Linked DNA regions of Homo sapiens. The protein of the gene in region 4 interacts with the protein of the main gene of each other region in a biochemical or structural test. Each region holds a gene or a part of one and is shown on either strand. Other genes may lie near its edges. The genes, in order: CD72, HDAC9, TRIM31 and SYK.

Evidence for each region.
Region 1: of the proteins of SYK (region 4) and CD72, one has a biochemical effect on the other in vitro, tested with the Homo sapiens proteins (one study listed by BioGRID).
Region 2: the proteins of SYK (region 4) and HDAC9 form a complex in vitro, tested with the Homo sapiens proteins (one study listed by BioGRID).
Region 3: the proteins of SYK (region 4) and TRIM31 form a complex in vitro, tested with the Homo sapiens proteins (one study listed by BioGRID).

What each region holds. Positions count from the first base shown.
Region 1 is NC_000009.12:35,611,774-35,616,734, forward strand, and holds part of CD72 (B-cell differentiation antigen CD72), read right to left. Parts: intron 4,917-4,961; coding exon 4,827-4,916; intron 4,614-4,826; coding exon of another isoform or gene 4,573-4,613; exon of another isoform or gene 4,506-4,572; coding exon 4,170-4,505; intron 1,221-4,169; coding exon 1,075-1,220; intron 147-1,074; coding exon 31-146; intron 1-30. UniProt on the Homo sapiens protein: Co-receptor of B cell receptor (BCR) that plays both positive and negative roles on B-cell functions. Recognizes the Sm/ribonucleoprotein (RNP) self-antigen ligand, and coligation of CD72 and BCR inhibits BCR signaling.
Region 2 is NC_000007.14:18,647,823-18,653,317, reverse strand, and holds part of HDAC9 (histone deacetylase 9), read right to left. Parts: coding exon 5,320-5,495; intron 4,853-5,319; coding exon 4,635-4,852; intron 189-4,634; exon of another isoform or gene 82-188; intron 1-81. UniProt on the Homo sapiens protein: Responsible for the deacetylation of lysine residues on the N-terminal part of the core histones (H2A, H2B, H3 and H4).
Region 3 is NC_000006.12:30,105,715-30,111,209, reverse strand, and holds part of TRIM31 (E3 ubiquitin-protein ligase TRIM31), read left to right. Parts: intron 1-531; coding exon 532-762; intron 763-2,161; coding exon 2,162-2,184; intron 2,185-3,022; coding exon of another isoform or gene 3,023-3,041; coding exon 3,042-3,157; intron 3,158-3,422; exon of another isoform or gene 3,423-3,547; intron 3,548-5,495.
Region 4 is NC_000009.12:90,838,911-90,844,405, reverse strand, and holds part of SYK (tyrosine-protein kinase SYK), read right to left. Parts: intron 549-5,495; 5' UTR 508-548; coding exon 91-507; intron 1-90. UniProt on the Homo sapiens protein: Non-receptor tyrosine kinase which mediates signal transduction downstream of a variety of transmembrane receptors including classical immunoreceptors like the B-cell receptor (BCR).

The DNA.
Region 1 (4,961 bases), about 55 Mb from region 4:
GAAAATACCCAGAAGTCCTAACAAACTTACCTAGTGCGTTGTGTATCATCAGTCAACTTCCAATCCTTGTTAGAGCTGAGGCCAGTCCAATATGAATTCCCTGAACCACCATTTGGCAACAGTGAATTTAAGAAGTAGTAAGAGTGCTGAGGGGAGATTCAGAGAGACCAGAGATACATGGAGAGTGATGAGAAATATGGAAGAAAATGCACACCCTAGGGAGGCCTCAGCTTTGGCAAGGGGGCTGTATATATGACAGCTCTTTGGTAACTTGTCCCTGAATCCATCAAGTGCCACCCTGCAGATGCAGGCTCACTGCTAAATTTGCCTTCCAGCTGAGTAAGAATCTCTGCCAGCCTTTGGAGGGGAGTCATTCTGTGTGCTGTTCTGGCCCCAAGGAACTAATCCCTACAATCCAGCCCACCAGGTGTGGGACCTCTCTGCCTGAGAGGCCACAAGAGTCCAGGAACCTGTCAAGCAGCCCAGGGAGCTGACCAGCAAGCTGAGATGAGATACACATTAAAGTAGAGGCCGGGCGCAGTGGTTCACACCTATAATCCCAGCACTTTGGGAGACTGAAGCAGGTGGATCACCTGAGGCCAGGAGTTAGAGACCAGCCTGACCAATATGGTGAAACCCCGACTCTATTAAAAATACAAAAATTAGCTGGGCGTGGTGGCATGTGACTGTAGTCCCAGCTACTCAGGAGGCTGAGACGGGAGAATTGCATGAACCCAGGAGGCGGAGGTTGCAGTGAGCTGAGATTATGCAAGTGCACTCCAGCCTGGGTGACAGAGTGAGACTCTGTCTCAAAAAAAAAAAAATGTAGATATGGTTAAGTTTCCATTCTCATGCCAACTCTAATCAGTTACTAGGGGCTGCCTGGACCACTGTGCTGAGAAGATGCAGAGGTTGTTTCCAAGCTCAGAGGTCAAGAGTATTATGATTCTCAGTTTCTTCCATGGAAAAGGAATGGCCACCCCAGCCATGTGTGCACTGCCATTCCTGACTTGATGACATATGTCCCTTTACCTAATAGTACCCACTGCAGTCTGTGAGTAAGGATATGCTTACTGATTGTGGATAAATTTCACTGAATGTGGCCAGCTTGGAAGACAGAGTTTCACATTGTTTTTGGCTCTCCTGCCAATTTTTTGAAGTAAGTGAGATGTAAAAGCAGCTTTTCTGATGCATTATCCATCCCGACGGACAGCAGGTGTCTAAAAAGCAGAAAGAGTGTGATAGCAGCAACAGTTGGGATGAAAGTGACTACTCAGCAATCTTTTGCTAACAATATTCCCCCAGAGCTAATCTCAGCACCTTCATGGACTTCTATGATCTTTGCAATCTTTCTTTTGCATCCCCTGGAAACACCATACCTGTCCTTACTTAGTAAAAAGACTTTAACATTCAACAACATTACTTCTTAGCAATCTGGGAGGTCTGTCTTAATAGGGCTGATTTTATTACCCCAATTTCTGAACAATTGCAGTCCACCCTGACACTTTACCTAACATCTCTTGGGCCCATCTCCTCCACTCCCTAAAGCACCCCTCACTGCACATCCTCCACTCCTCCAGCACTGGCCCCCTCCGTCCCTCTCCAATTTCCTACAAGCAGAAAATGTTGTGTACTGTTTTGCAGAAACTGAGCTCTCTCCTTTTCCCTCCTCTCCACCTCAAAATTTCTCTTCTCTGTTCTTCTTTTCCTGACTATCCATAAGAAATAAATATCCCTCTTTCTTCAACATCCTACATCCCAATGTGCACTTCTGATCCCAGGCCACCTCTCTCCATTGCTTTGTTCCATCAGTCCTACCTTCATCACTCAAAAATCATTCCCTCTCCACTAGCTCCCTCTCTTCTCTCTACATATGCTCATGTCCCCACCCTGCTACTCCCTTGAGCTACTGTCCTATGGCAACTTAAAGGAATAAAAAGAAATCCCTGCTGGGCACAATGGCTCACTTCTGTAATCCCAGCACTTTGGGAGGCCGAGGCGGGGTGGATCACCTGAAGTCAGGAGTTTAAGACCAGCCTGGTCAACATGGTGAAACCCCACCTCTACTAAAAATACCAAAAAATACCCAGGCACCATGGCGCATGCCTATAATCCCAGTTACTCGGGAGGCTGAGGCAAAAGGATAGCTTGAATCCAGGAGGCAGAGGTTGCAGTGAGCCCAGATCACACCACTGCACTCCAGCCTGGGAGTGCACTTCAGTCTCACAGAGCGAGACTCCGCCTCAAAAAAAAAAAAAAAGAAATCTGTATGGCCAAATGGAAGAGGGTGAGGAGATAAGTGGCACACTGAAAGGTAGGCAGGAGTGATGGAAGCCATGTTAAGGATTTTTATTTTTATATTATGAGGAAGAGAAAGTCAGTGTAGGGTTTTACATAGAGGAATTTTGTTCACTAGCTATATCCCAAGTGCCTGGGCACAGTGCTAGAACATATTATATGTTATGTATTCCATAACTGTTTATGTAATCAATTAACTGGAATGCTGTAGATTGGGTGACACGATCAGATTTTTGTTTGTAAAAGATTACCCTGGCTCCAATATGAAGAATGGACTGCAGGGAGAGGAGTGAGTAGGAAAAACATTTAGAAAGCTGTTGCAGATATCCTTGCAAAAGATGAGGATGGGCAAAAATCCATATGGATATATAGACTTGGTGATGGAAAGTGAAGGGAATTCCTCTCTGAAAGAGTGGAAGATGAGGACATCTGCTGAAAGTGAGGGAGAAGGAGTTACTATGGAGAGCAAGCTGACCATTGCAAAGGTTGCCAGGCAGTGCTGAGAGACTAGAGTCTCAGTGGCACTGAGCAGAATGATTCCACAATTTGTCACACCTTGATGCTGACCATGGGCAGTTGGGTTCATCCAGAGTTCAAATTTTGCCCATCAGGTACACTAGAAGGATAATGGAACAAAGAAGTGAGTGAGCCAGGTGCGGTGGCTCACGACTGTAATCTCAGCACTTTGGGAGGCTGAGGCAGGAGGATCGCTTGAGTCCAGGAGTTCGATACCGGCCAGGGAAACATAGTGAGACCTTGTCTCTATTTAAAAAAATAAGTGAGTAGTTGAAGTGATGGGCTCCAAACCCATGTTAGGTAGGGAGAGAAGTGTGGACAGGAGAAGCTGATGGGAAGAGAGAAAAAGGGGAATCAGTTGATTGGAGGCCTGGACTGATGGGAAGGGAGAAAAAGGGGAGTCAGCAGATTGGAGGCCTTGATGAGATCAAAAAAGTGTGGGGAAAACCTGCAGGAGTGGTGGGCAGCTGTGATCAGAGTGGAAGTCTGAAACCATCCTTTCGCCGGAAGAGCAATTTGGGAGGTAGAGGTCTAACATGCTGCTAAGAGCAGCCCTGGCATGGAACTGATGGTCACAGAGGGTAAGGTTAAGGAAATGAGGGCAAGGGGTGTCTGCACATAATCTTGCTGTCTTATGCCTGGGGAGATCACCCAGATGACCCCCAAGCTAGACAGAGCCTAAACCTGATCATAGCCCAAAAACACCCCAGTCCCCTTAGGCGTGGCACCTTGCCTAGACCCTCAGCCTGTTTTGATACAGCCTTGCCTCTTTTATGTGTCCCTTTCCCCATCTCCACTTACTGGCTGGGGTCCTGCTTTCAAAATGAATGGACACCCCATCCTAGTTCCCTACACCACAACTCCCAGCTCCACCTCACTGTGAGTGCTGAGCGCCTCACTGCCTTGCCCCACCACCAGGTTGCACTCCATGTCAGCCAGTAAGTCTTACCCTTTGGGGAGATCTCAGCTATAACGAAAATTAATTAAAAATGAGGTCCCTGTCTTTAGAAAGATGTGCAAACCGCCAAGTTCACATCCAAATTTGGGGGCGTTCCCAGATCCTTGTCACTGATATCAACCGGAAGAAACCTTGGACAGTGTGATTTGGACTGCTGGCTGCCATCCTCCTCTCCCCTACAGGATGAGCCTTGGAGCTGGGTGGGTCCCCCTAAATCTAGTATGCAGCTTGGTCCTTCTCTCTGTTGGCCAAGGCTGAACAGCTCATGTCAGCCACCACTCTGGTTCACTGCCCCTTTCCTGAACACCTCACAGGCCCCTGGGTGATAGACTCCTGCCACTACTATCTCCTTGCTCCAATCCATCCCTCCCTTCTCTCCTCTCCCCAGAGCGGATACCTGCTGAGCCGCATGTGAAGAAGGGCTTCAGTCTGTTCTCCATGTTGCTCAGCTTCTGCTCCAAGGCCCTCCTCTGTTGCTCCTCACTTTGCAAGGTCTCCTTCGTCTTCTGTCTGTCTGCCTGGCAGGCCTGTAGCTGCCCTTCGGCCGCCTGATGAGCCCTCTGTTCCACCTGTAGTGCTTCCTGACTCTGCGCCAGCTCTCTCCTGGACCCCTGCAGATCCTCTGCACTCTGTCCCAGCTGCGTTATCTTGAGGCGGAGCTGCTGCCTCAGGCTGCTGTTAGTGACTTCCAGAACCCTGTTCGTCTGCTGGAGCTGCTGAGACACCTGCAGATCTGTTTGGCCACAGAGATTTGGTGGATGTCTTCTCCAGCCCTGCCCTAGTGCCCTGAGACTGCAGCATCAGCCCTTTTTCTGCTTCTTGCAACTTTTTGCATCACAGGCTGAAATACAAGATTTGACTGACTAAAGCGTAAGGAGGTACTGGATTAGGTGAGGACAATTCAGGAAGACAACAGCCCTGGCTGGAAACCAAACCCAAAGCTAAGGAGGTGGTGGTAGTGACTATGATCCCTGCTGAGGAAGATCAGCTTTGGGGCGAGAGTCGGGACGAAAGTCGTTCGGTGTAAGTGGGAAGTAGGGACAGCCTTACTCACAGCGCACTCCCAGGCAGATGGCGGTCACTCCTAACAGCAGGCAGGTGAGGAGCAGGCCGAGCAGGAGGTATCGCAGGCAGGTTGTGCGGCCTTAGGGGGACAGTGGGATGGATGAGGGCAGTCAGCCCCCGTAAA
Region 2 (5,495 bases), on a different chromosome or scaffold from region 4:
AAGATATCAGTTTTCTTTCTTATGTCTCCTTTCCTAATACTTAACACACTGTATTACTGGTTTTTTTTTTTTTTTTTTGAGATGGAGTTTCACCCTTGTGGCCCAGGTTTGGAGCACCATGGCAGGATCTCAGCTCACTGCAACCTCTGCCTCCTGGGTTCAAGCGATTCTCCTGCCTCAGCCTCCTGAGTAACTGGGATTACAGGCATGCACCACCACGCCCGGCTAATTTTCTGTATTTTTAGTAGAGACGGGGTTTCTCCATGTTGGTCAGGCTGGTCTCGAACTCCCCACCTCAGCTTATCCACCCACATCGGCCTCCCAGAGTGCTGGGATTACAGGCATGAGCCATTGCACCCGGCCTGTATTACTGTTTATTTCAATAATTCACTTCCTGCTCCCCATCCTATAAGCTCCATGAGGACACTGAAGGTTGTTTTCTTAGTGCTTAAAACTGTGTCTGCACACAGTATTTAATGATTTGTTTAACGCATCCATACATAGATTAATAATTCATTAAAGTAACTACTAAACAAAGTATGAATTTTCTTAAAATTCCTGCTCTTATGGATTTAATGGAATGAATATGAAAAACAGATATTAATAAAGATATTAATATTCTAGTTAAAATAGAAACTGCTAGGCATGAATCAGTGCAATTCTATTAATACTATAACAGAGAAATAAAGAATAATGTTGTCAAGGGGATGGGGCATGGCAGAGATCTATGTCAAATTACCTCACAACAAAAATGCCTAAAGAGATTTTGAAAATTTTCTATATATCATTCAAATAGTGAAGTGACTAGAGATTTGCCCTTTTATTTTTTAGGCAGTGCTTAGAATACTTCTTTAAAATCATCAGTATGTCTAAACAACTGTTACGTATTCTGTTTTAATCAATTACAGTTTTATTTCACCAGAAAAAAAATCCTGTGGTAATATTTAAACTTGAAATGGGCCCAGGAGAAAATTACCAATACCTTATTACTTTTTGTTTGATATTTTGTATTTGAGGGAAGTTCTACTTTAGAAACTCTTTTTTCCTCCAATCAGAAAAGCAAGGTGTACTGGCAAAAGCATCAGTCTTCCCTTGATGCTGGTATAAAGAAACTCTTGATTTTTTGAAAAGGTTCTTCCATGGTATTGGGGAAAAATGATATAAATGAATGTGCAATGACATCATTGCACAAAAATATTAATACCATATATTAGCAATAGAACCTGTTTAATGCATTTCTGATTTGTAAAATGTCTCAGAAAACAAAAGATCAAATGTTGTAAGCCTTGATTTCTTTATGATTAAACTTCTCAAAACAGTTTCAGTGAAAAATAGAATATTCAAACTCATGAGCAGAGATAAATCATTCTCACAGGGTTTCCTCTCCAGCCCAGCACTCTCCTTTCTGACTTTCCCCATTATTTACTGGCAGATATAACAGTATAAATACTATACAAGCCCATTCCAGGGATATTTCTGCTAAGCCCTTGAACACTTACACCGTAACTGTAAGAGGCAAATAATCTTAGAACACACAACTATCCCACAAATATCCCAAATATGATATTAAAGTATAAGGCAACAAGTAGGTAAATTATTTTGTATGATTAATAACAGTTACATTATGTAGTTACACTGAACATGAATATTTTATAAACACATTAAAATAATAGCAAGATATGAAAAACTCTTTCAAATTTAATAAGTCAATCCTTGCATCACCCATGCCCCTAAAACTATATAGCTTTGTTTCTAATTCTTCTAAAGATTATTAGTAATTCAAACACATTACTACAAATTTTATACCAGGAAGCCCATCATATTTAATCTGATACAGGTTTAGAAATAATCCTACTTATATTTTCTTGTTCCCACTTCATTTTTTGTTTCTCTAAATTCCTCAAAAAAGAATCATAAAAAGGAAATAAAAGAAGATATATTTAAATATGTCATTTGTATGTCAACATCTTCATGTGTGCCTGTATTTCCTGCTATAAGTATCTCAAGAGTAAGGACCATCGCTTCAGTATGAATGGGTTTCATAAAGGTTCATCCATGGAAATGGGGAAAAATGATAAAATTTCTGTGGTGATTTCTTACTAATGGGCATTCTAAATGGTTAAATCAAGTATACAGCAATATATTATACAGAAACATGTTAGCTTTGGGCATCTAAGTTATGAATCTGACCCAATGTGAAATAAACATCCTTGTCACGTCACGGAAGCAGGTGAACAGTAGCCACTCACTTCTTAAGCGTTCTATTGTGAATATTTCAGGATAGGACATGGGTTTGATATTTTCTTTAATAAGCTTCCTCTCTGTCCCCTTAGACAACTGAGGGCAGGTAAAATATTTTCAAAATCTGGAGAATACCCAACGTGAATATGCCAACTTGATGAAACATATGGAATACATCCTTGGAGAAAAGCCAACTGGCGACCTGCTTGAGTCATCTAAACACCCAAGCTGAGAGAGGTTAACATATAAAGATCAGCTTTGGACTTTGAAGTTTTCTGGTCTTCATTTTGCCTAATTAAGACAAGATTTAATAATCAAACCACTGTACAAACATGTACCTAAAAGTATAGGTTTGTTTCTAATTCTGGGAAGAATTCTTAACAGATTCAAAGGAATCAGCTCCACATGGGAAAAGGTCTCTGATAAGATTTGCTTTTCTCATTGCTAAAATGCAAATGCCTGCTTTTCATCTGAGTTTTATCCAGTGTGACTGAGGTTAGCATTCGCCTGTCAAAATCTCGAGTTTGATACTGAAAAGGAAAGATTCTGATATTAGCACACCATCTGAATCTGAAACAGTGGCAATTAGTTAATAAAAAACTGTATTCCAAAATATTCTTAAAGGTATTCATAGAAACCATTTGTGGATCACAATTTCAAAGTGAGTAATTTACCTACTTTACCATAGTAAAATATATACATCCATGTGTTTCTAGGAAATAGAACCAAGCATAGCAGAAAAGTCTATCTACTATCTAATACTGGTTTTATAAACAAACCTAATTCTAGATCAAAACACTATATGGCAAAAAAATACGATCCCTAATCTTCCCTCCCACATACATTTCTTGCACTAAACAGTGGACAATTTTTCAAGAATACCTAATAATTTTAAGTTGTGCTGAAAGGCCACAAAACAAATAAACAAACCTAACTCTACCATAATATAGAAAACATATGCAGAGTCACATACAAGTCAGTGAGTATTATGCCATTAGTCAGAGAAGGAAATTGGCTCTCTCCTGAAGATACTGATTTGATATAAAATAATTTGATATGAAACCGAAATATTTGCTAAATTTAGAGAAGTGCTACAGCAATAAAATAGGCATTATCTAATGACACAGAAAGGGTCTGCAATGCATACTAAAAGGTTAGAGAGAGAGTTGTCCCTGCCAGCCACCCCATCTCTAGCACCCCAATCCCACACATACTTTTGCTACTTTGAGAGTAGCGAAGGGCTAGGCTGGAAAACTTTCTGTTCGGAAGCATGGTATCCAATCCATGCTTCCTTCATGGCTCTGCCCTTGTTACGATGGAGGCCAAAAGAAGAGAAAAACTCCAGCAACACTTGCCATAAAACCAGCAAGTGATGAAGATCCCTTTCCCCTACTGCCGTTAGAAAGATGATTAAGCCTCTGCCCATGAGAGTTTATTTTGTTTTGTTTTGTTTGTTTCTTACATCATAGTACAACAAAGTTATTACTAAGCCAGGTTTTAGCTATCCATTTATCAGTAAACAAAGTATCAGTTTGCAATATCATGCCTCTCATGCCTCTGTAACATAACTTGTAGATGATACAGCACAAAGGCAAGGGAATAGAATTTTAATACTCAGGACCTTAATATTTTCCAGGAATTTTCCAGGAATGAGAAGATGGTGCTTTTTTAAGCCTACCACAGCAAAAAGTAGTGGAAAAACTGTCCAGACCAGGTTCTTTAATATCATTTTGCTTACGAATTCATAGAAAATCCTTTACTGGCCTGTCTGATATTATGCTGCAATCACTGTTTCTTTGTAGTTGCCTCAGCAGGAGAGCTCCTAAGGATGTGGTACGGTACAGACATCCGCTGTCTATTTTAGCAACATTAAGACTTCCAGGAAGAAATGATCACAAGTTTCCGAGAAACTACTCCAAACGCTTATTGGAATGAAGTGGGGCATTCGCAAAATAAATGTAACGTAGATGCATACAAGTTGCTGAGAAGTGCCTTACTGGCTAATCTTGGCCTATCTGTCATCACCTGTACAAACTTTTTGACATGTCAACACACCACATTCAAGTCTGCCTCAAACTTTTTCTGCAACACTAAAAAATGAGGCTCCATATACATATGCCCGTATGGGCTTGTGTACCAAAATATATACCTGATCATAAAAAGATCTTGTGAATGTATCATCTCAATTTTGCTACAAATGTCTTATGAACATAATGGTGGTTAAAACACTGATATTGTGATGGTGTCCTTGAGCCAAGAAAGCAGGCTTAGGATGATCACATCCTTTTTGCTGTGACTCCCATCAACATTCCTCTTAGACACCCATATCAGTGAAGAGATACCCAATTTCCAAACTGGCGGTTAGAACATTTTGACTTGGCTTGGAGGCTTACTTTGTTCATGTGGATCTGCTGCTGGTATTGCTTCTGCTTCTCCAAGAATTGCTGGTGTTGCTGTTGAATGACCAGCTGAGCCAACGTGCTCTGAGGCAAAGGTGCAGACTGGGTTCGGTTCAGGGGTCTGTGACGGGGCAATTTGTGGGTACCTCTAATGCCAGGTGAAATTCTCTCTTTTGTTGCCAAGGGAGACTGAGGATGTAAGGGAACTCCACCTGAAAAAAAAAATACATGTATATGTGTGTATACACACACACACACACACACACATACACACACACACAATTTTAAGAAAAGATAAGAAGCCAAAGAAAACAGATACATGGTATAAACTGTAAGAAAATTAGTGAATTAGTGATGCTACCAGGCAAACAACAGAAGAATAGGTCAGGTGTGGGAAGAGAGAAATGTCAAGGCATTGGACAGGTACGCATCTGACCATACGACTCACCACAGCCTAGTCTGGTATGAATAAAGGTTAAATGAGGTGAGTCCTCCTACCCCAAGTGGATCTGAAGGAATAAATAAAGATGATAGCCTTTCCCACAGTACCAGGTATCAGGGAAACTTTTGTATAGCACTGTGGATCTCCATCAGGGTCTTGAGTAAAAGAGACATTATCCTGGATCACTAATAAAATAAAACCCTAAAATGACCTGCAAATGGTGCCATAATGAATTACCAGCTACAAGAAGCTTTTGCTGTCGCATTTGTTCTTTCAATAATAAATGCTGCAGGAGAGCCTGGTGGCTGCTGTTGGGTGGCTTTCCCTCTAAAGTAACATGAGGGTGGCTGGAAGATGCCGGGATGCTGCCTCCATACTGCCCAGGCAGAGGAACACCTTGCCTAAGCGTCTGC
Region 3 (5,495 bases), on a different chromosome or scaffold from region 4:
AGAAAGAAAACTAGCCGGGCGTGGTAGCACACGCCTGTAGTCCCAGCTACTAGAGAGGCTGGGAGGTGAAAGTATTGTTTGAGCCTGGGAGGATGAGGCTGCAGTGAGCCGTGATCGTGCACTGCACTCCAGCCTGAGTGACAGAGTGAGAGACTGTCTCAAAAAAAAAAAAAAAAAAAGACAGAAGGAAAATGAAGACATTGTGACCCCACTTACCTATTTTCCTGTGTGCGTGAAAGGAATAAAATCTATATGAAAGATTATAAACTGAAAAGCCTTCTGGAATTGTATTAGACAGTTCCTTGAAGGCAAGTGGTAAACCATAAATTAATAATTTCGCTTAAAGCTGAGCACGTAGTAGGTGCTTTTAGAAGTTTGTTCTCCTCTCCTTTCCTTTCTTCCAGGTCTGCCCTGGCACATTGCTCTGGTTGGGAATTCCACACAAACTTAATAAAATTAATGGCTGAATAAAGTGGGCTAGAAGGACCTTCGAGGCCATCCTCTCACCCTCTGCCTGTCCCTGTTTCTTAGGACCAGGTAGAACATGAGAAGCAAAGGATCCTCACAGAATTTGAACTCCTGCATCAAGTCCTAGAGGAGGAGAAGAATTTCCTGCTATCACGGATTTACTGGCTGGGTCATGAGGGAACGGAAGCGGGGAAACACTATGTTGCCTCCACTGAGCCACAGTTGAACGATCTCAAGAAGCTCGTTGATTCCCTGAAGACCAAGCAGAACATGCCACCCAGGCAGCTGCTGGAGGTGAGTCCCTTGGGGGCAGAATTGCAGAGAGGTAGCAGCCCATCCCTAGTCTCAGGTCAGAGCATGGACCACTGGCAGAATACCTGAGATTGCCCCAACCATCCTACCTCTAGCCCAGTGCTGTCCAATAGCAATATGTGAGCCGCATGTATTAGAATGAAAATGTGAGCCACATATGTAATTCATAAATATAATTCTGGCCACATGTGTGATTTAGAAATGTAGTTTCAGCCACATATGGAATTACAAATTTTTCTAGTTAGTCACATTAAAATGATAAAAGTGAAATTAATTTTAATAAAATATTTTAACTCAATATATCTGAAATATTATCCTTTCAGCCTGTAATGAATATTTTAAAAGTATTAATGAGATATTTCACATTCTGGGTTTTTGGTGGTTTTTTTTTTTTTTTTTTTTACACTGAGTCTTTGAAATTGTGTGTATATTTTTCACTTTGGCACATCTCAATTCAGATGCTAAATTGTCAATTGTTAAAGTAAAATATAGTCTTACCAAATCAATAAAGTTGTGTTTAATGGAAAAAGTACTTTACCCTTCTTCTATTTATTTTATTTTATTTTTTGAGATGGAATCTTGCTCTGTTGCCCAGGCTGGAGTACAGTGGCGCGATTTTGGCGCACTACAACTTCCGCCTCCTAGGCCCAAGTCCCAAGTAGCTGGGATTACAGGTCCCCACCACCACGCCCAGCTAATTTTTGTATTCTTAGCAGACACGGGGTTTTACCATGTTGGCCAGGATGGTCTCGAACTCCTGACCTCAAGTGATCTGCCCACCTCAGCCTCCCAAAGTGCTGGGATTACAGGCGTGAACCACCGTGCCTGGCCTCTATTTTTAATTTAAATTTGAATTAGTAAAAATGAAATTAAAAATTCAGTTCTTTGTCACACTAGCCACAATTTCCAATGTTCAGTAGCCACATGTGGTTGGTGGCTACCATATTGGACAGTGCAAGTCTAGCTGGTGCTTAAAATAAGCTGAGATGATTCCTCCTCAAGTCATCTATTCTCCCACAGGTTCAAAAACCTATTTATTTATTTTAAGAAAGATCATGCAAAGCCATTCTAGCCTTTCTCCTGCCCTGGCTAGCAGGCTCCCTTGTTCAGTCTCAGAGCCAAATTCATCTTCTAAATCTCACTCTTCTCTTCTTCACTCAGTTCTTCTTGAGGTCAAAACACTTTTCTGCTTACTGGCAGAGCAGTGCTTCTTGGAGAAGCCCTTCGTGGTGGGGAGAGGGGAGGAGGATGGGGTAAGAGAGACTTGGAGGGGTTCTTACTCCTCCTGCTCTGCCCCACACCCAGCAGGCTCTGTATCTCCTCCTTGGCTCCTGGGAATCAGCCAAGTGCTGAGGCTGTGCTGTTTCTCTTTCTCTTCTAGGATATCAAAGTCGTCTTGTGCAGGTATGATGGGCCACCCCAAATGTATTTTGCCTACTGATTCATCCACACACAATTCTCAGCGTATATCCAAATGCAGTCAACATTCCTCTCTCAGAAATACCCACCCACCTCTAACTCTGCATTCATACATTTAGGCTGCAGCCGGGGAATGCCTATGCCAACCATATTAGCACGTGGTTGGTTGTTAAAGAAACCAGCTGTTTTCTCAGCCTTCCTCCTTCTTCAGCACAGATTCTACTATTTCCTGAATGCCCCCTTGCTCAACTGAATAGCTCCTGGGTCCCCTACTCTGTCTCCCTGACCCTGTTTTTTTCCCTCCTCTCTGTCTCCATCTCCCATCTTCATTTCCATATCTCCCTATGCCCTACCTCACTCCCGCCCCATATCCCTAGCCCTGACTTTCTGACTCCCAGCTCACTATCCCTTAACCGCCAGGTCTTCTTTTTTTTTTTTTTTTTTTTTTTTTGAGATGGAGCTTTGCTCTTGTTGCTCAGGCTGGAGTGCAGTGGTGCAATCTCAGCTCACTGCAACCTTTGTCTCCCAGGTTCAAGTGATTCTCCTGCCTCAGCCTCCCAAGTAGCTGAGACTACAGGCGCTTGCCACCAAGCCTGGCTAATTTTCATATTTTTAGTAGAGACCAGGTTTTACCATGTTGGCCAGGCTAGTCTTGAACTCCTGACCTCAGGTGATCCACCCGCCTCAGCCTCCCAAAGTGCTGGGATTACAGGTGTGAGCCACTGCTCTCAGTTCTACCCCCAGGTCTTCATCCCCTCATTTCTCAACCGCGTATCTCAGATCCTCCTTCTCCCACACCTCATCCCCTGATCTCACCAACCAGCTCAACCACATCTTCCTAGAAGTGAAGAGTTTCAGTTTCTCAACCCAACCCCTGTTCCTCTGGAACTGGAGAAAAAACTCAGTGAAGCAAAATCAAGACATGACTCCATCACAGGGAGCCTAAAAAAATTCAAAGGTAAGGAAGAGGCTGTATTTTCTCTATTCACCTACTTCCAGGAGATTCTCTCCCTGCTCACTCCACTGAAATGGAACTGTGACTCATACATGCCAACAATCCCTGGGCCCTTCTAGTGCCAGGCTTCTGGCTGAGTACTTTCCACGCATCAGTATGCCTCCTCCCAGGCATTTCTTATATTCTGTCTTTGTGATATGTTATTTATCTGCCTCCCTGACTCCTGCGAGAGCCATAGAGGGCCTGGACCTATTCCCCATGTGGACACCTGGCCTAGAGCAGTGGCTGTTGGGAAGTTGGTGATGAGTTGTCTGGTGGACCAGAGATGGCCTCAGGCAGGGACTGTCATCTCTGACTTCTCCTTCTCTGGTGCACACTGGTGTCTCCTCCTGCCTACAGAAGAAGAGAAAATAAATTCAAAATCAGTGACATTCTGGGGAGAAACCTCTTCCAGCCTTACAGGGAAACAGAAATCAGCAGAACAGTAGTGGATGACTTGGGTTTTAGATGTTCGCCAGATATTTTTCATAAACCTTTCTGTGTTTGCAACTAGGAAGAAGGGTTAGTATTTGTAAGGACTCCCCTTAATGTGAAGACTGTGTTGGTCTAAGGTGGGCATAAAGACAGCTAGATGGAATCTTCTGAAATTATCACCTGGAGTTCCACACCCACCTCCCCCACCCCAACCCCCAGCCCCCCATACACAAACACTTCCCCTTGGGACTACGGAAAAGGAGGACCAGGGCAATGCCCCAAGATCTCCACCCATTCAGCCGGGAATCTCCACTCGGCAGACATAAACAGGAAAGCATGTTTTGTTTTATTCTTAATTTTGTTGTCTGAGCTTTTCTTTTGTCCACTAACTGCTCTGCTTTGTCTAGCTCCTCCCACCCCACTGGGCATGATCTCAGCCGATCTAGCAACTTTATTTATTTGTTTATTTATTTATTTATTTTTGATGGAGTTTTGCTCTTATTGCCCAGGATAGAGTGCAGTGGCGCAATCTCGGCTCACTGCAACCTCCGCCTTCTGGTTTCAAGCGATTCTCCTGCCTCAGCTTCCCAAGTCGCTGGTGTTACAGGCGCACACCACCATGCCCAGCTAGTTTTTTGTATTTTTAGTAGAGACGGGGTTTCACCAGGTTGGTCAAGCTGGTCTCGAACTGCTGACTTGTGATCCACCCGCCTCAGCCTCCCAAAGTGCTGGGATTACAGGCGTGAGCCACCACGTCCAGCCCGATCCAGCACCTTTCTAGGCTCTTCAGGTCAAGAATAGTTTGGTTCTAGTTTGGAATTTCAATAAAGGAGCCCAGCCCTTTCCACTTCATCAGGTTTGGAGTTGGGGAGACTGGTGTGCTCTACTCTGTATCCCCCTTTTCTTTCCCTCTTTCACATACACAAACTCACACACACACAGTCCCCCAACTCCCACCTGGCCCTATTTCCTTCTTTTTTTTTTCTCTTATTTTTATTTTATTTTTACCCCAAAGAAGAAGGCACAATGGCCACCTGGCCCTATTAAAGCCTAGGAAATACAGGAGGTGGTAGGGAGTCTACTTATACCACAGGTCCAATCTCCACAGTTCTTATTATGAGGGTTGGTTCTCCCTGCTCGGGGTGACTGGGTCTGGAACACGTACGTGGAGAAGGGTGTGGCTGGGCCCTGAAGCCGCTAAAGGCCCTTGTAGGTGAAGTGCTCCCAGGCAGTGTTTCCTATGCTCTAGGTTTGCAGACCCCTCCTAAGAGGGCCCCCGCGTCTCCCCTGAGCAGTCCCCATGACTGGGCTGGTGGCTCTCAGGGAAGCTACCCACGCTTGTCCCACTACCTAGCCCCAGGCTGTCTTGTGCTGTCTTGGGGCTGCAAGACACTGGGGGAAGGGTGCTGGGGCCAGAAGTAGCTCCCCATCTAGGGGCTCCACCCTATAGTTCTCCACTCAGTCCAGCACCCCTACAGGAAATCTAGGCCAGGAATGGGCCATTGTCCCCAGCTTCTGGGCTCATCCTCTACCTGCAAAAGGAGTCTCTTCTGGCAGGGGTGAACTGGGAGATGAAGGCACTCGGCCTCCCCTTGCAGGAGCTCTGTCTTCGTTCCCCCTCTCAAGCCCTCTTTCATGGGAAAGAGGGCAGGACTGCCATCCAGGCTTTAGGAGAGTGGGGCCCCCCCTTACCCCACCTGGCTCCTGGGTGGTTAGCCCTACAGTAGGCCTTCTGAAGCTAAAGGGTGAAGCCTCAAGGCACTCTTTGTCCTGAGCACCTACCTTTGTCAGGCAGTGAGAAAGGGGCTAGCTCTGCACTGTCCAATTTAGTAGCTGCTAGCCACATGTGCTGACAGGCACTTGAAAT
Region 4 (5,495 bases):
ACATAGGCACATGTGTTGCATGTAGCCAGGAAGTCTGTGTGGGGTCACAGGGCCCCCTGGGCCCAGGGAGCAGGACCAGCTGTGGCCCACCTGCAGGTTCCATGTCTGCTTCACATATTCCCTGATGAGGTTTTCCTTCAAATCCTCAAAGGGCCCAGTCTTGGGCTGCACCCCTTGGGGCCGGTTGAAGGGCTTCTTGAGGAGGCAGACCAGGCCATCAGACTCCTGGGAGTGGTAGTGGCAGAGGTCGGCGGGGCTGGCATGGGTCCTGCCACCGGCGATGGCGTAGGTGCCATTCAGCTCCCGCTCGATGGTGTAGTGGTGTGCCTTCCTCCCGTGGGCCACGGACAGGGCGAAGCCACCCAGGTAGTTGCGGCTCTGGCGCAGCAAATAAAGCCCATCACTCATGCCCCCCTGGACCAGGTAATCTTCTGCCTCCTCCCGGGTGATGTTGCCGAAAAAGAAGGGCAGGTGGTTGGCGCTGTCAGCCATGCCGCTGCTGGCCATGCTTCAGGGGCCGGAGGGCACACACCTGCGCAGGTGTCCACCTGGGCAAGACAGAGACAGAGAACTTTGGTGAGGACCCCACGTGGCAGGGAACGTTTGCTAAAACCACTCAAACCCTTTCAAAGTGGAGACAAACCCTCCCATCTCTGAACAAAGGCACTTCCCTCTTTGGCCCTCCCAACACACAGTTGTCTTTCTGTTCACATCATCATTACAGTTTTCAGCATGCCTTCTAACTAAGCTAAAATCAGAGCATTTGATGGAAGTGACCAAATTAAATAATTCTTTTTTGGGGGGAGTGGGGAAAGACAAAGAATTCTAAAAATAAACATACCGCAAAGAGAAGCAAACAGAAGGGCTATTGCAAAACAGGACTCTTGGGCTGACCCTCAGGGTCCCAGCAGCATACAGGAGGCAGAATCTACATGAGAACAAACCAACTGCTCCTCCTGAGTCCAGACAATGTTAGAGAAGCCTTGCTCCTCATCACAGTGATATTACCAAGGAGGACGCTACCACCACCTCACCCACCTGAGCTGCGAGACGCTGCCTCGAGCAGTCAGTCACACGCTGGTGCTGAGCCCCAGAGGTGAAGTGAGGCCACGTTGAGGGCCCACACGGAACTGTGACTTGTGGTCACCATAAGGCCTTCCCACCTCCAGCCCGGGGCTATGATAGCAACAAGCCACTGCCTGAGACATGAAGAGTGACACCCTCCCTGGCTCCCGAGGCCTGGGGCCCATAGGCTGTCTTCTCCCCGCTTCTCCAGACCACTTCCTGGGCAACGCCACTTCCCATCTGCAGGGCCCGTGCTAAAGAGATAGTGCCGGTTCCCAGCCCACGAGGACATCTGACACAGGAGAGACACTGCTTGCAGTAAATAAATACATTTCAGAAGCAAAAAGAAAGGCGGCCAATGCATATTTAACATGGAGAGTATTCCCTCTCAATCATGGTTGTAAACTAGAAGGATACATATTGCCAGCCCCAAAAGTATCCAAGGAGGCACATTTTAACCAAAAGGGGCTGGTCGTGAATGGAAAATTATCTACATGACTCCATCCATTTATCCAGGGAGCAAAGCGCATGTCCCTCATGGTACACACACACACACACACACACACACACACACACACACACTCTCTCCATACCACATGCACACTACATGCATGCCACACACACTATGAACACATGCCACACCTGCACTACACACACACCATGTACTACATGCACACTATGCACATCACACACACCAAACACACAAACTACATACATACCACACACACGAAACACACTACACACATCACATGCTACACTACATACATGCTACACACACAAAACAGACATGAAACACACCACTGCATGCACACAACACACATCACACACACTACCCCACACACATACACATACACACAAACTACATACACACCACACACATGAAACACACCGCACACACCAAATTCTACGTTACATACACACAAAACACACATGAAACACACCACATGACTACATGCGCACTACACACATCACATACGGTACACCACACACCACACACATCACATACACTACACCACACACACACACTCCATACCACATGGACACTACATGCATGCCACACACACTACGAACACATGCCACAGCTGCACTACACACACACCATGCACTACACGCACACTATGCACATCACACACACACCACACACACAAACTACATACACACCACACACACAACACACTACAAACAACACACACTGCACACACAACACAAATTACATACATACCACATACAACACACTACACACACTACACACACCATGTACTACATGGACACTACACACATCACACACACCAACTACACGTACACCACACACACAACACACTACACATATCACACACTGCACACACAACACACAAAAACTACATACACTCCACATACAACACACTACACACACCACACACACTACACACACCATGTACTACACGGACACTACCCACATCACACACACCACAGACTACATACACACTACACACACAACACACATAACACACTGCACACACAACACACAAACTACATACACACCACATACAACACACTACACACATAACACACTACACACACCATGTACTACACACATCACATACACCACACACACAAAATACATACACACCACACACAGTACACACTACACACATCACACATACTACACACATATCACACACAAACTACATACACACCACACACCATACTAAACACATGCTACACTACATACACACTACACACACAAAACACACACGAAACACACCACACAACTACATGCACACTACACACATCACACACACTACACCACACACATACACCCCCATACTACATGCCCACTACATGCATGCCACACATATGGACACATACCACACATGCACTAAACGCACACCACACACACACAAACTACATACACACTACACACACAACACACTACACACATCTTACACACACTGCACACGTCATACACAAACTACACACACACTGCACACATACTACACACAGTATACACAAACTACATACACAGTACACACAACACACTACGTGCAGCACACAAACTACATACACATTACACACATAACACAGTACACACCCACACACACTGCAAACACACCACACACACAAACTACATACACACGACACACAACACACTACATGCAACACACATACTACACACTACACATAAAAACACACACAAACCACACCACATCACTACATGCACACTACACACATCACACACACTGCACACACACCACACACAAACTACATACATGCCACACACACACCATAGTACACACAACTAACACTACACTACATACACACTACACACACAAAACACACACATGAAGCACACCACACCACAGATCCTGCACCACGATGATGTGAAGCGGCTTCTTCTCAACATGCACTATCCTACAAGGGGCTATAAAATGTAAGAGCATCAGCCTGACACAGGCGACAGAGTTTTCCCCAGACGGTGTCTATCCACAAGTCAGTACTCCTGGGCGAGCCCCTAATGAGGCATGGGTTTTATTATAATTTGAGGGTATTAATCATCATTTCCTGGCTTGCCTCTCACAGCAGTTGACTATCAATGACTTTTCTTTGTCCAACAAGTTTCTAAAAATTCATCTCTTAGCAAGGTGTTTTTGTTTTTTAAAGTATATCTACATTTACTTTTGAGTCTAAGAATGCTGTTAACAGAAAGACATCTCTGGAAACACAGTGTGCTGATGAGTCTCTTGGAAGAAATACTTCTCTTTGGACTGCTTTCCCCTTTCTACAGTTTTTTTTTTTTTTTTTTTTTTAGAAGAGACGGGGTTTCACCGCATTAGCCAGGATGGTCGCGATCTCCTGACCTCATGATCTGCCCGCCTTGGCCGGGCGCGGTGGCTCACGCCTGCATTCTACAATGCTTTTGTTGCAGGCCAGCCACTGCCCCCAGCCTGCTTTTCCCCCACTCCACCCTTTTCCTGCAGTGGGTCTTCTCGGGCCTCCAACCTCATTTCCATTGTTTCCCCTGCAGCCCAGCACGTCTCATACTTCCACGTGGCCTGGGGGCTCTGACACACCCAGGGCCTGAGACGCTGCTGCTCCTGCAATCCTGGTGATGCGGATGCTGGGTTCTGATGCCACCTGAGACCAGGTTCTCCATCTTCTCTGCCTTCCCTGCCCAGGCGGTGTCCCAGCCAGGAACCCAGGAGTCCTCCGCAGGACTTGCGTTCTCTAAGGTTCGTTTTCCAGGCGCCCTTGGTGCATGTTCCTTACTGCCCATATCCATGACCACTGCTTGGCGTAACCCTGTCCTTTCCACTGCTGCCCTTCACTCCTCACCTTCTGCCCTCCTGCTTCCTGACGCCTCCCTCTCCAGCTGCCCGGTCCTCCCTCAAAGCGCACATCAGCCCTTCCTGCCTATTCCAACATGCCCAGTCCACAGACCACACTGGACTGCACCGGGATGCTGTGGCTTTCCCTTCTTGTTCTCACCACGTGTGCTTTCTGCTGAGGCGTGCAGCTCTTCCTCCCAGCCATCTCAGTCATCCTTACAGACCCAGCTCAAATACCCCTGTCACTGTGTACCTGGCCCCGATGCTTGTGTCCCCTCTGCAGGGCCCAGGTTACTTTTTATGTAGTTGCAGAACAGCAGACTGCACCATCAGCTCAAACTGAGACAGTAACTTTGTAGGAACAAAATTTTAAATAAAATGAGAGCAAATACTTTTTAATTCATATAAATCTTAACATAGCTACTATTTTAAAAATTCATTGGCTTGTCACTAATCATTACATCGGTGCTGGCACTTGGGCATGAATCCCATATTGAAGTGAATGGAAAGGAAGTGAGACAGGCTGTGGTCGGGTCTTGGGGAGCATCTGCAGACCCGGAGCAACCTCCAGGCACACGCCAGGGACACTCTGTGTGGCTTTGATGGTGCATTGCAGATATGTTCGCAAGCAGGTGGCAGAAGAATGTGCTGCACTCAGTGTCAGCACCGATGTGGCTGATGGCCCTTTTCTGGCCATGTGACTTCCTGTGCCGGAGTTGACCTGGGTATGTTGGTGGTGATGGTTTGGGCAGAATCACTGGTTCACTGCAAGGACAGCTTATGGCACATTTTTGGGCTACTTAATTGGGGGAATAAACAATGTCCATGGTGTTCCTGTGCATACCTTCTCAGGACTGGCACCCACCGGCACCCACCCGGGGCCTTGTCCTGGTCTCCAACCTCCTCTTTCTCAGGCCACCTTGGCAGGAAATGGCCATCTCCATTCCAGTCACTGCCCACAGTGGCCCAGGCTGCTGTTCTCAGCTCCACTTTTCAGATATCAGCTTTCAGTCAGTATGGCAAATCCAGAGAGTCTCACTTTTCACCCAGCGTAGTCTTGGCCACGGCTGTGGCATCTCTGCCACCCCCACCAACTGAGACAGGGACGGAGCCCGTGACTTTCCC